2 separate regions of the Homo sapiens genome follow, and region 1 is linked to region 2. Evidence: fine-mapped expression QTL. Tissue or cell type: caudate. Region 2 holds a variant in brackets; the other region holds the start of a gene. All regions are shown on one strand. Distances are between the middles of the regions.

Region 1 (8,000 bases), 23 kb after region 2:
TGCAAAACAAACAGAATCGAGGGTTTATGCAAGGAACCGTAACTTCCACCTAATTCTTAACATTAGAAACAAATTGTACAAAATATACTTTTGTACAGTGTACCCTTTCCAAAAAGGATGTCTTCAGTGCCACGCTTAGAGAACTTTTGAGTGAAGTTTGTTACCAAACAAAATACAGGTGTCTTGAGGTTGCATCCTGGCTCCCAGCAGGGCGCATTGCTGGGGATAATTTGTGGGCAGTGAAAAGACACGACTCTGACATAGAGAGTGAATGGGAGTTGCAGAGCATGACCTCATTGTTCAAGGTGCCCAGAGCAGACATTTTGAGAAAGGCTGGATGCCTCTGGTTGGGTCCCACCCTTGGCGTTCATCGTTGGCCAATAGGGCAGAATCACTCTGAGGCGTTGAGCCGCAAACCCCAGAAAGTTCTCCAGCCAACTGCCTTGTTAGATTCTTTGCAAGTGGGCTCTAGCATTTTACAGGCTGAAGGCAGAAAAAATAAACAAAAAACTTGAAAAAACAGAATCTTGAAGTCTGTGGGGATGACCACGGAATCCAAACAAAGTGACAGACAGAGCTCAGAAAGGTCGTTTAAGGCAAACATAAATAGCAGGTGTAACTGACGGGGAAACAACAACACACAACAACAACAACAACAACCAACTCAGAAGGTAAGAGCTTGGGCCGGGCACGGTGGCTCAAACCTGTAATCCCAGCACTTTGGGAGGCTGAGGCAGGCCGATAGATCACTTGAGGTCAGAAGTTCAAGACCAGCCTGGTCAACATGGCAAAACCCTGTCTCTACTAAAAAAAAAAAAAAAAAAAAAAAAAATTAGCTAGGCATGGTGGCGCATGCCTGTAGTCCCAGCTAATCTGGAGGCTGAGGCACGAGAATCGCTTGAACCCAGAAGGTGGAGGTTGCAGCAAGCCGAGATGGTGCCACTGTACTCCAGCCTGGGCAATAGAGCAAGACTCTGTCTCAAAAAAAAAAAAAAAAAAAAAAGAGAGAGTTTGGATAATTAACTTACTTAGAATATAAAAGGATGCAGAGGTTAGAAAAACAAAAATTAAAGTTGGAAAATTTCTTTAAATCTGGAAAAGGAAACCAAAAGAGACTGTAAATACTCATCTGTATTTCTGAAGTGTTTTCAGGTAGCTCCCAATAGAACTTTCAATGAGATGTTTATTCCAAAACCAAAGTAAAAATTGACAGCAAATTGAGTGCTTGCCTCAAAAGGCACAGAAATGAAACATGAAAGAGGATGACAGAAGTCAATCTAACAATGACAACTATAACAATGTAAACACAATACATTTCCCTATTTTTTTTTTTTTTTTTTTTTGAGACGGAGTCTCGCTGTGTTCCCCGGGCTGGAGTGCAGTGGCGCGATCTCGGCTCACTGCAAGCTCCGCCTCCCGGGTTCACGCCATTCTCCTGCCTCAGCCTCCCGAGTAGCTGGGACTACAGGCGCCCGCCACCACGCCTGGCTAATTTTTTGTATTTTTAATAGAGACGAGGTTTCACCGTGTTTGCCAGGATGGTGTCAATCTCCTGACCTCATGATCCGCCTGCCTCAGCCTCCCAAAGTGCTGGGATTACAGGCATGAGCCACTGCGCCCGGCCTACATTTCCCTATTATAAAGCAAATCGTTCATATGAAAGTTCTGTTAAATATAAATTTGAATGATCTGCTGTTTATGGGAGACATATTCAAAAATTTTTTGGAGTATTTGCCATGTTTCAGGCACATCATTTACCATAACCAACACTGGTGGAGCCTAATTTACCTAATTTTACACACCACAAATCTAATTTATAGGCCTGGGCAACAGAGCAAAGACCCCATCTCTACATAAAAATAAAAATTAGAAAATTAGCTGGGTGTGGTTCTGTGCACCTGTAGTCCCAGCTACTCAGGAGGGAGTATTGCTTGAACCCAGGAGTTCAAGCCTACAGTGAACTATGATCGCGCCAGTGCCCTCCAGCCTGGACTACAGAGTGAGACCTTGTCTCTAAAATGTACATGCATATATCCACCACCTAGAGTTTCCTTCTGGAATGCCCTGGGCATTTTCGAACCTAGCCCAGGAATTCCAGCCTTGACATCTCTGGGCTGGAGCGGAAGCCATGGTGATAGGATCCGAAAGGCTGGGCTTTCAAATCCTCTGCTCCGGGGATGCTGATCTGCCTGGAGAGATGACATCTGGTTAACAGCTTGGAAAAACATGAAGATGCCAACAAGGCGTTCTTCTTCCCTGGATCCAACATCATTTTAAAATCACAGAATGCCACTTGGGAAGGACCTGAGAAATAACTGAGCCAAGTTCCCATATGTTCTTTTATATTAATAATATAGAAGCGCCTGAGAGCCTGCAATGTCGGGTACCACGACATCGTACTACTACATCATACCTGTGCAAGCATTCACTCAGCCTGAACCACAGGATGCTGAGGTTGGCTGCGGGATGTCTCCTCCTTGTTCCTCTACAACACTCTTTTTTTTTTGTTTGTTTGACATGAAGTCTTGCTCTACTGCCCAGGCTGGAGTGCAGTGGCACAATCTTGGCTCCCTGCAACCTCCACCTTCCGGGTTCAAGCGATTCTCCTGCCTCAGCCTCCGAAGTAGCTGGGATTACAGGCGCATGCCAGCACACCTGGCTAATTTTTCTATTTTTACTAGTGACAGGGTTTCCCCATGTTGGCCAGGCTGGACTCGAACTCCTGACCTCAGGTGATCCGCCCACCTTGGCCTCTCAAAGTGCTGGGATTAGAGGTGTGAGCCACCTTGCCCAGCCTCCTCTACACCACTCTCCACCCTTCTTTGGATTCTCTGCCCAGGAGGCTGCATCCTTGGCGCTCTGTTGCTTTCTGGCTTTTGATCTAAGCAGTTGCCCTCTGCAGAAGTTATCAGTGCCCCAGAGCTCCCCCTCCAGGTAACTCCTCTCTCGTCTGGCCCTTCAGGCCTTGGGTGGGACCAAAGCCACTTCTCACTCTTTGCTAGTCTTCGTTAATGACACAAGCACTTCTGGTTTCTCTACGTCTTCCCCACAGCTTTGTAAAAAGTCTGTTTCTCAAACTCTCCTCAAATTACTATTTCCTACTGGGACCCTGACTCCTACGGGTAGGTAGTGACATCCCCATTTTATGGATGAGTAAACTGAGGTGGAGAGAGGTGAAGAAAATTGCCCAAGGTCGGAAAGGAACATTCCTGGGATTCAAATCTGGACTCACTCACATCAGAGGTTTGCTGTTACCATTATTCCTGCACCTTTGTTGAAACTGGGGAGTGGGGCCAGGCTGATACCGTAGCCTTTGTTTCCTTGAAAGAGGAAGATGCAGGAGATACAAGAAGGGGCACTGGAACTGCCCTGCAGGTTTTCGTGGCCTGGAGTCAACCCTCGGGAGCAATTGAGGTAGGTGGCAAATATTTGCTCAAAAGGGGTGGCTGAATTTCGTGGACAAATGCAGAGGGCACCTCCTGTAGCCCGTGAGTAACTTCCCTGTAGAGATGAGGAAGCCAGCGGAAAGGCGGGTGGCACGGACTTCCCCAGAGCTCCCCCTCTGCTAAGTGGTGGGTCTAGTTACGGATCTAGTCCTACCTGAAGCCAAAGAAAGCCCTGGAACTTCAAAGCACCCACTTGGCTGCTGGCAACTGTCTACACTGCGTATGGACTCACATACTTTGGGAGCCATTTGAGCCCAGCACCTTCTGATGATGAAGAGGAGGAGGATGGTGTCATGGGGACACCAGCACATTCTCTACTCCAAGCCCTGCTCGAGACCTTCCTGTACAGCACTGTCCGCTGGGGCCTCTCCATGTCACTGTGAAGGAGGCGCTATCGTGGTGGCCATTCTGCAGAGCAGTAAACCAAGGCGCTAAAAATATAAGAAACCTGCTCAGGTCCCACGACGAGCAAGAGCGGCGCTCATCCTGCAGACGAGGACAGGGGCCCTGACCATCCGAGACCATGCAGGCGCCAAAGGCAGCAGGGCTCTCAGTCGCTCCTGTTCCTGGACTCACTCCCAGGGCCCTGGAGGTGGGGGTCTTAGCCTTCTGCTGCTCCCCGCTCAATGACAGGCTAGGTTGCCGAGGCTCAGAAAGGCCACGTGACCCGTCCAGAGTGCACAGCCGCAGGTGTGAGTCTGACTGAGCTCCAGCCACCTCGCTCCCGGCGCCTTAGAGCCGCCCACCCTGGGTTCCTCAAGAGGATCACCTGGGGCTCGTTAAAAACCCAGCTCCCGGCGGCTCCAAACCGTGACTGGGCAGGGAGGGGTCTGGGAATCCGGATTTTAAACCAGCATTTGCTCCTCCACCTCCCCCACTCCAGGTGATTCTTAGGATCTGTAAGTTTGGGAAACAGCCCAAGCCCTGAGGCGACGCAGCCTCTCCCTGGGCCTTTCATGGCCAGCCGGCGCTGTCCCCAGAGCCCCTGGGGTCCCAGGCGAGCTCGCGGGGCGGGGCCGGGTGAGCCGGCACCTCCCTGTGCGCAGCCCCGCCCCAGGGGCGGGGCCTCACCTGCCGCGGGCAGGTAGACAGCTACCTGGTAACCGGGTCCGGCCCAGGAGGCTTGGGCGCGCGCAGCCATCCCGGGCCTCGCCGGGGACCTAGGGACGCAGGCAACGCCTGCGCCCGCTCACCATGGTCGAGGGACGCGTCTCCGAGTTCCTGAAGAAACTCGGCTTCTCGGGCGGGGGCCGCCAGTACCAGGCGCTGGAGAAGGACGAAGAGGAAGCCTTGGTGAGTCCCCGCGACTCCGCGCCGGGCGTGCGACCCGACCCCCCATCCCCTCCGTCGTAACCGTCCCCGGCCCGAGACCCCGCGTTCGCGCTGCGATCCGCGAACTCGCCCTCCTCCCCTGGCTCTGGAAAGAAGCTGTCCTCACAGCAACCGCGCTCTCATCTGCGCTCTGGCGCGGGGAGCTCAGCATGGAACCCTCACGTGAACCCATTTTGTGGTTGAGAAACTGAGGCCGAGAGTGGTTAAGTATATTCCCTAAGGGGCACGGAGCTAGGAAGTGACCTGGCTGGGAACTTAACCTAGGTTTCTCTGACTCCAGAGAATTAAAATTCCTGGGTCTCCAGACTTGGGCTGCTTTATGGATTTTTAAAACTTAAATTGGAAAATAAAATTAGAGGGATGCAAAAAACAAAAGATTGCTGAAATGTTGTAGCAATAATAGAAAGCAAAGTTGGAGCTGAGGGACCTCCCAGCCTCACTTCCTACAGTCAGGTACTTTTAGAAAGTCACTCAGAGCTGTATGCCTGCTTTGCAACCTTCAGGGACCCTCTGGGATAAAGCAGCAGGGTGCCAGGGCAGGGCGGTTCATGAGGGAACGAAGTGGCAAAGCTGTCAAATAAAGCCCCTCCTGTTCCTTGGATTCTTGGAAGCCAGGGGTGAAGCCAGGCTTGAGGGTGACCCAACACCCTTCTTTTTAGCTTCGCAAACAGAACTCGTTGCATGCTTTAAGGTCAGGGGGGCACTGAATTTCTGCAGAAGCGTTTCTCTGCACGCCAGAGGGTCGTTGCACTTTTTTTTTTTTCATTTACGCTTAAGCAGTCGTTCAAAAGTAACATTTCTGAACGAGTCCCCTGGGTTGCTAATTAGAAATATGACTTGGCGATGGCCTTTTGACCAGTGAAAGGAAACTTCAAAGGTAAACTTACCTTTTAATTAAAAAAAGAAATTAGCTGAAAAAATATTTGACTTAAAATTTTATTTTTTTCTCCCAAAGAATACTAATGGTCAAAACATTTTGTTTGTGAGATTAAGTATTCGTGCTTTTTTAAAAATAGTGTTTTGTGCTTTTTTAAAAATAGTGTTTTATACATCCCTGTTGATGTAAGAATTCTGGTCTTAGGGTGGTAGGCCACAGGACCACGTAACTAGCAGTTTTTGAGCAATCTCGATTTTTCTGAAGTGGCATGTTAATATTGATAGGATATAGAGTTCAATTAATTGGCTGTGATCCATTTCTCTGCTTCTGCGATACATTCTGCTAAAGGAGTTTGAAGTTTATTTGCCATCACAGGTTGCCTTTCCTATGTTGCCATTCCTGTTTTTTCCTTTCCATCTTTTGATTCTTGCATCAGGCCAGGTATTTTTCAAACTCTCCTGGTGTGTAGTTGGTTACCATCAGGTTTCACAGGATGTCCAGGAATGCAGGTGCATGGATGATGTAACCTCAAGGGAGATGCTGGGAGAGTTTGATCTCTGTGCCAGGTGGACTCGTCCCTCCAAAGCTTTGCAGGAGAGTTCTCAGAGGTCTGACAGGTGTTCAGCCGGTCTGTCAGTGTGCTCTCCCACCTGGCTGTGGACCGGGGTGCTCTCAGCAGCATCCTGAGGCCCTGGGTGCGTGATGATGGGCAGTGTGCAGCGCCAGGAGGCGGGTGATACCAGCACTGACACCAAAGGCCAGCTGAGAAAGAAGCCATGCTGTCTCCAGAGGCAGCCTTGTGCAAACCCAGGAAATGTGCAAACCCAGGAAATGGCAATGAAGATCGATGGGAAGTGTGAGGAGGGAGGGAGGTGGGGAGGCCGGGTGGCTGGGCGAGGCACTCACTTCCTGCCAGGTTGGCTCAGACCTGAACACCTCCTTTGCTGTCATACTCATGTCCTCTCGTTGGAACTCCTTTCTCCCAGGGTTTGGAAAGGAGGCGATGTGTGTTGAGGTGATCACTTCTACAATAGTTGGAATTGTCTTTTTTTTTTTTTGCGTTATTTCATACTAGTTTATTTAGGGGTTCCATTTTCACTCCTCAATAGAACCGTCTTTTATGAGCACTAATTACATGCCACATCCAGGATGCCTGTAGGAGGCCTCTAAGCCCTCCCCTCCCCCAGCCACTTTGACCAGTTACCCCAGTTCTAATAGTGATTGTTACTGAGAACTTGCTGTGTCTTCTCTTGGGCCTCTTACCTCCAAGGTAAATTTTACTCTCGTCATGTGATCAATGAGGATGTGAGGCTCCTAGTGGGGCCACGTTTGTTTGCTCAGTGAGCATTTCCTGACAGCCAGTTTTGCTAGGCGCTGAGGATACAGATGTGTACAAAACAAAGTTCATAAAGGAGGCCAATGGTCAGCTGAGAAACTGGGAGATGCTTTATTTGAGACCCAGTGGTCTCAGGTGCACTGGAGAATCAAAGAGTAGAGGACCAGACAGAGGACTGGTGGTTGAGAGGGGAACTGGAGACGACCCCATGTTAGAAGCACTGGAGACTGGATTTCAGCATTTCCAGGAATGGAAAGAAAGGTGTTTGAGCCGGGCGCAGTGGCTCATGCCTGTCATCCCCACACTTTGGAAGACTGAGGCAGGAGGGTCACTTGAACCCCAGAGTTCAAGATCAGCCTGGGCAACATAGCCAGATGCCATCTCTGCAAAAAATTAGGCGTGGTGGTGTGCACCTGTGGTCCTAGCTACTCACCAAGCTGAAGCAGGAGGATTGCTTGCACCTGGGAGGTCAAGGCTGCAGTGAGTTGTGATCATGCCACTGTGCTCCAGCCTGGGCAACAGAGTGAGACCCTGTCTCAAAACAAAACAACAACAAAAAGGTCTTTGAGAGGCCTCCTTAATTTAGTTACTAGAAAAAGCTTCTCACTGCTGACCTGAACATTAGGGTAAGGAAGAGATTGGAGCAGAAATTCCTGCTTCCCAGGTGACTCAGCGCCAACTCCGGGGGAAGCTGTCTCTGCCCCTCAGGGCTCCCATCTCTTAAGTGAGGCAGGTATAGCCCCAGCCCACTGCCTTCCTGGCTGGTGAGCAGATGCATCCTTCTGGGCTCTCCAGGGTGAGGCTTGGATCCCAACAGACGAATGTAGTGACCACCCATCCATTCAACCTAGATTCACGGAGGGGGCTCCCTCTGTGTGTCAAGTGAGTGCTACCAGCTGGAGTTGGGGCTGATAAGGATGCACAGTTCTCTACCCTCAGGTATCCCAACCAGGAGGCAGAGACAGGCACCCAGCAACTGGTCACAGTTCACTGTTTAATGCCAACGTGT
Region 2 (8,344 bases):
AAAGTGAGACTCTGTCTCTTAAAAAAAAGAAAAAAAAATCAGGCATGGTGGTGCACAACTTCAGGTCCCAGCACAGGAGGCTGAGGTGAGAGGATCGCTTGAGCCCAGGAGGTCGAGGCTGCAGTGAGCCATGATTGTGCCACTGCACTCCAGCCTGGATGCCAAAGCAAGACCCTGTCTCAGAAAAATAATAATAATAATAATAATAATAATCCCTTTGGACTTTGGTTATTCGGATGTGGCCACATTCCCTCCCAGGTTGCTTTCCATCTGAGTTGCCAGTATAAGCTCGCACCCTGAGCCTTTTTTCTAGAACATTCTCACAGATATCAGTAAGTTGGTCCAAAGAGAAGGCAGGTGGGTTCATTTCAGGTGACTGTCTTTCAGGACAAACCTGATCTTACAGCCCCCACAGAGGTTCTTCCCGTGCAGACACCTGGAGTAGGAGCCTGAGTGAAAAGGAGCCCAGCCCCCAAAACATCCTTCCTGCAGGCCCCTGTGAGCTGCCTGAAGTTCCACCATTACAGAACCATCTTTTGTTGACAGCTGCGAGGCCTGTTAGACTGTGGACTTCTCTGGGAGAGGCTGCTGTAATCTAAGCCGTTAGGGAATCCCGCCCTTCAGTTTACGTTCTGGAGTGAAGCCACACAGGTGCGTCGCTGATCATGGCCACCGAGGTAAGAGGTAGGAGAGGGTCATACTGGGATCTGGGCCTCCAGTCGAGATGAGGAGTCAGGGCGGCCTTCCCAGAGGAGGCAACGTTTGAGCAAAGTTTCTGAGTATGAGTTTCTGTGGCTGCTGTTAACAAATGCCCACACACCAAGTGGTTTGAAACAACAGTCATGCATTCACACTGTTCTGGAGGCCAGAAAGCCAAAACCAAGGTGTTGACACGGCTGGGTCATTCCGGAGGCTCTAAGGGAGAATCCAACCCGTGCCTCTCTCCGGGCTTCGAGGGAGAATCTGCCCGGCGCCTCTCTCCCGGCTTCCGATGGCAGCCGGCCACTTCAGTACTCCCGGCCTTGAGGATGTGCCTCTCCCATCTCTGCAGCGTCTTCCCGTGGCCTTTGCCTCTGTCTCCGTGTCCCAGATTTCCCTCTGATTTCTCTTTGAAGGACACCTGTCATTGGATTTAGGGCCCTCTTAAGTCCAGGATAATCTCCTCTTGAGACCTTTAACTTCATCCCATCTGCAAAGTCCCTATTTCCAAATGAGGTCACATCCGCAGGTTCTGGGGGTTAGGACATGGGCATTCTGGGGAGACGTCATTGAACCCCCAGCAGGGAGCAAGCGGCTAGGTCAGGAGAGGGAAGAGGGGTAAAGGCATTCCAGGCAGAGGGAAGAACATTGAAAAAGGCATGGAGAAGAGAAGTTCAAGGACCTCCAAGCAGGTGGGCATGGCCAGGGAAAGGGGGCACCCAAGAGTGAGAGGATGTGGGGCTAGAAAGCTAAGCAGGTGCCAGCCGGTTCACACGCTGAGTTTGAACTTGACCCTGTTGACCTAAAGGAAAAAAAAAAAACAACGGAGGAAAAAATGACTTAATTACTTAGTTAAATTAAGTAGAGAGTTTATTTGGGCCAAGCTTGAGGATTTCAACCTGAGAGTATGGACTCAAGCTGCTCTGAATATAAAGTCCACTCAGCAGCAGTTACAAGTAGGTTTTTAAAGGAAAAAAGGAAAGGCAGTTCCCAAGCTGTTTACCAAGAATTTATATGAAAATAATAGAAACTATTGCTTGGCTAGGCATTGTTCTTTGTGTCACAAATTCCCAGAACATGAAGATAGCGGGTGAGGCAGCAAGTCAGGAACAAAATGCCTTTAACTACCCCTAGGCCTGGGGGTGACGGCATGACTGAGGTCCCACACTCTCGTCTTTCCGAGCCTGATGAATTCTGCACATCCCAGGAAGCTCAGACTCCAAGCCATTTCTTTTTTCTCACCCCTGAAAATAATGTGGAGATGCTGAAAGTTTTACCTGGGTCATTATGTCACCGACTCTCCCCACACCCCTGAGAGGTGGGAATTATGGCCCCATTCACAAATGGAGACTGAGGCCCAGGGAGGTGAAGTCACTTGCCCAAGAGCGGATCCTTGGAGAAATGGCAGGGGTGGGATTGGAGCTCAGGCCTCATCTAACTGCATGAGTGGGAAGATGGAGGCAGCAGGGTTCTGGGTGTCTGTGGCAGGCAGAGGTGGGTTATCCAGGAGAAAGGAAGGAAGCAAGGCTTTTGGGACTGGGTGCCAGGCCCACCGTCCCATCACGCTGGGCCCGGGGTCCTCATGGTCTTCGTATGAGACCCACCTCCTTGGCTACAGCTGATTGGTCCAGAAACATGTCACCTGACTCAAGCTGAGCCAATTCTATTTCCCTTCCAAGAATGTGCTCTTGAGTCTTTTTTTTCTTTTTTCTGAGACAGAGTCTCGCTCTGTTGCCCAGGCTGGAGTGCAGTGGTGCGATCACAGCTCACTGCAGCCTCTGCCTCCTGGGTTTACGCTATCCTCCTGCCTCAGCCTCCCAAGTAGCTGGGATTACAGGCGCCCACCACCACACCCAGCTAATTTTTTATATTTTTAGTAGAGACAGGGTTTCACTGTGTTAGCTAGGATGGTCTCGATCTCCTGACCTCGTGATCTGCCTGCCTCGGCCTCCCAAAGTGCTGGGATTATAGGCGTGAGCCACTGCACCCAGCTCTTTTTTCCTTTTTTTTGAGGCAGGGTCTCACTCTATTGCCCAGGCTGGAGTGCTGTAGCATAATAATGGCTCACTGCAGCCTCGACCTCCTGGGTTCAAGTGATCCTCCTGCTTCAGCCTCCTGAGTAGCTGGGACCACAGGTGCACGCCACCACACCTGGCTAATTTTTGTATTTTTCTGTAGAGATGGTGTCTCGCTATGCTGCCCAGGCTGGTCTCGAACTCCTGGGCTCAGGCGATTCACTCACCTCGGCCTCTCAAAGTCCTGGGATTACAGGTGTGAGCCACCGTGCCTGGCCTTCTCTTGAGTCTTTGATGCTAGAAGGTGATGCACAGGGCAAGTGATTTAGAGCCTGGCTCCGGACTGAGGCATTCAGCGGCGTGGGTTCAGGCAGCTTCTTTTACCACTTCTCTGTGAACCTCTCTGTGTTGCTTCCATTTCCTTCTCTGGAAGTGAGAAAGATGAAACCAGCACTTTCCTCCCGGCCTATGGTGGAACTAAGTGATACTTAGTGTTCCGCTTATGGAGGAAATGGTGACACTTCCTGATGTAGGTTTGGCACTCGGAAAGCGCTGGGCAAAACTTAGTCCTAACCTGGTGGCTGTCTGAACAGAGAGGATGGAACTTGGAGCTCCTGCCTTTAATCTTTGATATGAGGGGGAGGGGGAGAGAGAAAGAGACAGAGAAACCAAGAGAGGAGGAGGAAGAGGAGAGAGAAAGAGACCCACAGACAGGGAGCGGGGGAGAGGAGAGAGACAGAGAAAGAAAAGCCACCTTCTCCATTTTCTTTGGTTTCCCAGCCACCATGACAGTTTTCTAGGACTTGCTTCCAGTTGTTAGGAGATGGGGCTGCCCTCTTTGAACTTGGGTTCCAGGCAATGAGTCCATGGTCCCCGGTAGCCAGCACCCCTGATTCTGGCTTAGGCTAGCACACGTGGATTTCTGTTATTTGCAATCAAAACCAAACCAAACCAACACTCAGAAAACACTTCGACTGAGACAGTTTGGCAGGCCAAGAGCCCCATGAACTCTATTGGAAACCCCTTTGATCTGGATGCCAGGGAATTCTTGCCCCAGACCCTGTCCCCACGTAAAGAAAAACCCAGCAGGCCCGAACCTCGGTGTGGGGCAGCCACGGGAGCTCCTAGGCAGCCCTCCTGGCTGTGCCGGCCGACAGGCCTTCTGTCATGCATCCCATACCCACACCTCCTACTCCCAGATGGGCAGGTTTCTGGCAAGTTCCACACTCAACCCAGGAACCCGTTGAGCAGGTGCCTTGAAATGGACAGTACCCCTACACACTGGGCACAGGAGGGCCTTCCCTGGCCAGGTGGGGACTGCAGAATGTGTGAGCAAAGAGCAAATTCGGGTAATTACAGCTTCATTAACTACCCACCAGGCTGAGTGCCACTCAGCATCCGTGATCTCAACAACCAGCCCAGCTGGGAAGATGCCAGTATCCCCATTGGATGGGAGAAAGAACCAAGGCTTCGATATCCTAATAAGTCAGCCTCTTACTCTAGGTCAAATAGTTACTAAGTCAGGGAGCCAGAACATTTTGTGTCTACGTGAAGTAAGGCTTATTATTAACATTTTAAAATATAAACAGTGCATGAAAAACAGTGTACTAGGTGGCTTTGCACTTCTCACCAGCTGCCACTGTTTTACCTTCAACTTTTTGCAGGAACAGGAGCTGGAATATTTTAAAGCAAATCTCAGATATCACTTATGTCACCTGCAAATGCATCAGAATATGCATCTTGAATACATGAGGATAATGTATTCATTTCTCTTTCTTAACATACCCATGAGGTCATTATCACTAGACCACTTGGTTTGGGAAGTTCCAGCTGGGACCACCACAGCTTTATCCTAGGAGGGACCAGGGCAGTACCAGCCTAGTCCTCGTCTCCCTCAGTGGTCAAAAGTTCACAAGAGGCCAGGCACGGTGGCTCACACCTGCTCTCCCAGCACTTTAGGAGACCAAAGTGGAATGATTGCTCGAGCTCAAGACCAGCTTGGGCAACAGAGGGAGACCCCATATCTACGTGAAATTTAAAATTAAATTTAAAAATTAGCCTGGTGTGGTGGCACTCACCTGTGGTCCCAGCTATTTGGGAGGCTGAAGTGGGAGGATTGCTTGAGCCTGGGAGGTGGAGGCTGCAATGGGCTGTGACGGCGCCACTGCATTCCAGCCTGGGC[A/G]ACACAACAAGACCCTGTTTCAAAAAAAAAATTACAAGAGCAGCAGTTCCCAAAGTGAGGTTCCTAGACCCAGCAGAATCCATGTCACTAGAGTCCGCATTAGAAAGGCAGAATCTCACGCCCACTCCAGACCTGTTAAGCCAGATACTGCAGCCTTGGACCTGGCAAACCTCATTTGTTTCTGTGTTTTTCCTAATCTCATGACAGGATATGGCAATCTGTGTTTTAACTCACCCTCCAGGTGATCCTGATGCCAACCCCAGTTCTAGAACTGCTGCTCTAGAGAGAAACAGGTGACACAAAGAGATGGCTCCACTCTTGCATTCAGGGTATTCTTTTATGTTTATTTTTTATTTTTCTTAAACAGGATCTCACTCTGTCACCCAGGCTGGAGTGCTGTTGCACGATCTCGGCTCACTGCAACCTCCGCCTCCAGGGTTCAAGCTATTCTCATGTCTCAGCCTCCAGAGTAACTGGGATTACAAGCACGCCAACACACCCGGCTAATTGTTGTATTTTTAGTAGAGATGGGGTTTCGCCATGTTGGCCAGGCTGGTCTCAAACTCCTGACCCCAAGTGATCCGCTCACCTCAGCCTCCTAAAGTGCTGAGATTATAGGCATGAGCCACTGTGACCGGCCTCAATCAGTTTATTCTTTGTGCATGTTCTGGCTTCTTCTCCAAAGGATGCTGAGGACTAGTCCTGAGCAGTCTTGTCCTGCAGTTAGATGCATTGGCCCTGGAGCCCACCGTCAGCAAGTAAGACCCGACTCTTCCTCTCATTGCCCAGGTGACCTCTGTGCCTTGGTCTCCTCTTTCATAAAATGTGTGCGAATAATAGCACTTGCTTCACACGCTGCTCATGAGGAGCAAACCAGCTAAGGTACAGGAACTGCTTAGAATGGTTCCTAGTGCATAGAAAGCGTTCGTTAAGGCAAAGATGTCCTGTTCTTACCAAAACGGCGATGTCTGTTACCAAAACGGAGATGGCCGGATCGCTAGGCTGCCATAGGACCCCGGGAGTGAGATCACAGCAAGTCACTAGGAGTCTGTTGTGCAAGGGAAGGGCTGGGAGAGAACAGAAGGAGACTGGGGGCTTCTTTTACAGCTTTGGGGAGTGCAGGATTAAAGAGGGGCTCAAAGGGTGCCCTCAACCTGAGGGCTCCAGGCAGAGCAGGCGTCTCCGAGGTGGGGAGGCTGCAGGCGGTGACTTGGCAGGAGGTGGTGAGGACTGAGCTTGGGTTGCCCGGAGCAATGCTCCTGAGATGCCCCACAAGCAACCCCTGGGGACCTGCTTCCCAAAACCCCGGAGAGGACGAGAGGGGGCCCACTAGCTGGAAGAGCTGAGATGCCTCCAGAAGTCTCTAGAATGTTCTGTCCTCCCCAGGCCCAGTGGGGAGACGAGAGACTCAAGCAATTGAGGAGTGTGGGGTTCCCCAGACACCCGGGAAGGCAGAGGGTCAGGAGGTCAGGGCTGGGTTCTGAGCAAACCCCAGTGCCACCGTTGTCCCAGGTTTGATTGTCCCCAAGCCTCAGGAAACCAGTTGTGTACTGTGATTTAAGTAGGACATGGGGCTGGGCACAGTGGCTCATGCCTGGAATCCCAGCACTTTGGGAGGCCAAGGCAGGTGGGTCACCTGCAGTCAGGCATTTTGAGACCAGCCTGGCCAATATGGTGAAACCCTGTCTCTAATTAAAAAAAAAAAAAATAGCCAGGCATGGTGGCACACACCTGTAATCCCAGCTACTCGAGAGGCTGAGGCAGGAGAATCGCTTGACTCCGGGAGGCAGAGGTTGCAGTGAGCCAAGATCGCACCACTGCACTCCAGCCTGGGGAACAGAGCAAGACTCTGTCTCATAATAAAAAATAAATAAATAAAAAGGACATGGGCTCTCAAACTCTGTCTAGCAGAGGGATAGACACCTTGTCTCCTTTATACTCATGCACGAGGGAGACACTGAAACCTCCCCAGTTGTCCATCTTAGCAAAGAAAACTCATAGGCTTTACACCTTGGGAAGGACAGAAATTCCAACTGAATAAGGCAACGAGTTATGAAATGAGACGGCTGATCCAAACGCAGACATTTCAGAGGTTCATGATATGAACTCAGGAGGTTGGTTTGTTTGAGACAAGGTCTCGCTCTGTCTCTCAGGCCGGAGTACAGTGGCATGAGGAAAGCTCACTGCAGCCTCGACCCCCCAGGCTCAGGCGATCCTCCTGCCTCAGCCTGCCAAGTAGTGGGAACTACAGGTGCAATCACCACGCATAGCTAATTTTCTATGTTTTGTAGAGACGGGGGGTCTCGCTGTTTTGCCCAGGATGGTCTCAAATTCCTGGGCTCCAGTGATCCTTCCACCCTGGCTTCCTAGGATTACAGGTGTAAGCCACTGCACTCGGCCAAGATATTTTATTTTAAAAAATTTTTATTTTATATTTATATCAGCTAGCCCTGACCACTGGAAAGGCCTAGAAAAAGTAGTCGCCTCAGTAGCCTAACACACCAATTATGGTCTTGAAATGCCGTTTCTCATTTCAAACACTAAAATTAAAAAGCACGGTGTCTTGGAGAAATAGCTGACTCCAGGACTGGAAAGGTGCCAGCCAGTGTACAAGACAAGGCTGAATTATCTTATTACACCAGATAGCAAAGAATTATGCCAAAGAACTCAGGGCCAATCCGAAGTCATTCCCACCAGCCAAAGCTGTGTGACCATGTGAGCTTCAATATGAATAATATTTGCAATGGATGGAAATGCACCTATGTTTAAACTCACGAGTTCACAAATGTATTTTTAAAACTTGCATATGTACATGTGATTTAAAAAAAGAAAAATAAAAAATATAAAGACTATCTGATCACTTTCAGAGGATGATGAGAAACCAACATGTTATCTTGAAAAGTGGCTAATAAAGGGAAGGAATCCAGCAATTCTTCTGCCTTTCCTGTACCAATCGGTAACAAAATTGCAGATGAAGAAATGCCTCTTTTTATAGAAGTATTCCAATCAATAAATTTAAAAGCAATGGTGGAGTAGTACAGTTTTGCAATCCCCAGTGAGTTAGTGAATCTAGGCTTTGAGCAACGACAAGTACATTACAAAGAGAGACGCTCCCCAGGCATCCTGAGCCTCCTGATGCAGGAGCACAGAACCAAAGCCATCCATCCAGAGGCTGGGCAACCCTCTGGATCCCAATTTGCAGGGAATAGTGAGGACAGAGGGATAGGCAGAACGGCACTGGGAACATGCAACCAGCAAAATCCAGACTGTGGCCAGGCATGGTGGCTCACACCTGTAATCCCAGCACTTTGGGAGGTCAAGGCGGGCGGATCACCTGAGGTTGGAAGTTCGAGACCAGCCTGACCAACATGGAGAAAGCCCATCTCTACTAAAAATACAAAATCAGCCGGGCTTGGTGGCACAGGCCTGGAATCCCAGCTACTTGGGA

Evidence for each region. PIP is the estimated chance that this variant, and not a neighbour inherited with it, causes the effect.
Region 1: it holds the start of ATP2C2, and the variant in region 2 is fine-mapped to the expression of ATP2C2 in caudate (GTEx, PIP 0.98).

What each region holds. Positions count from the first base shown.
Region 1 is chr16:84,363,976-84,371,975 of GRCh38, forward strand. ATP2C2 (ATPase secretory pathway Ca2+ transporting 2) reads left to right here and starts at 4,563. Exons shown (of 27, transcript NM_014861.4): 1 at 4,563-4,739. The coding sequence starts at 4,641.
Region 2 is chr16:84,341,095-84,349,438 of GRCh38, forward strand. No RefSeq gene overlaps it. Among named protein-coding and RNA genes, the nearest start is that of ATP2C2, 23 kb to the right of the region's middle. The variant A/G (reference allele first, on the strand shown) is at 4,897.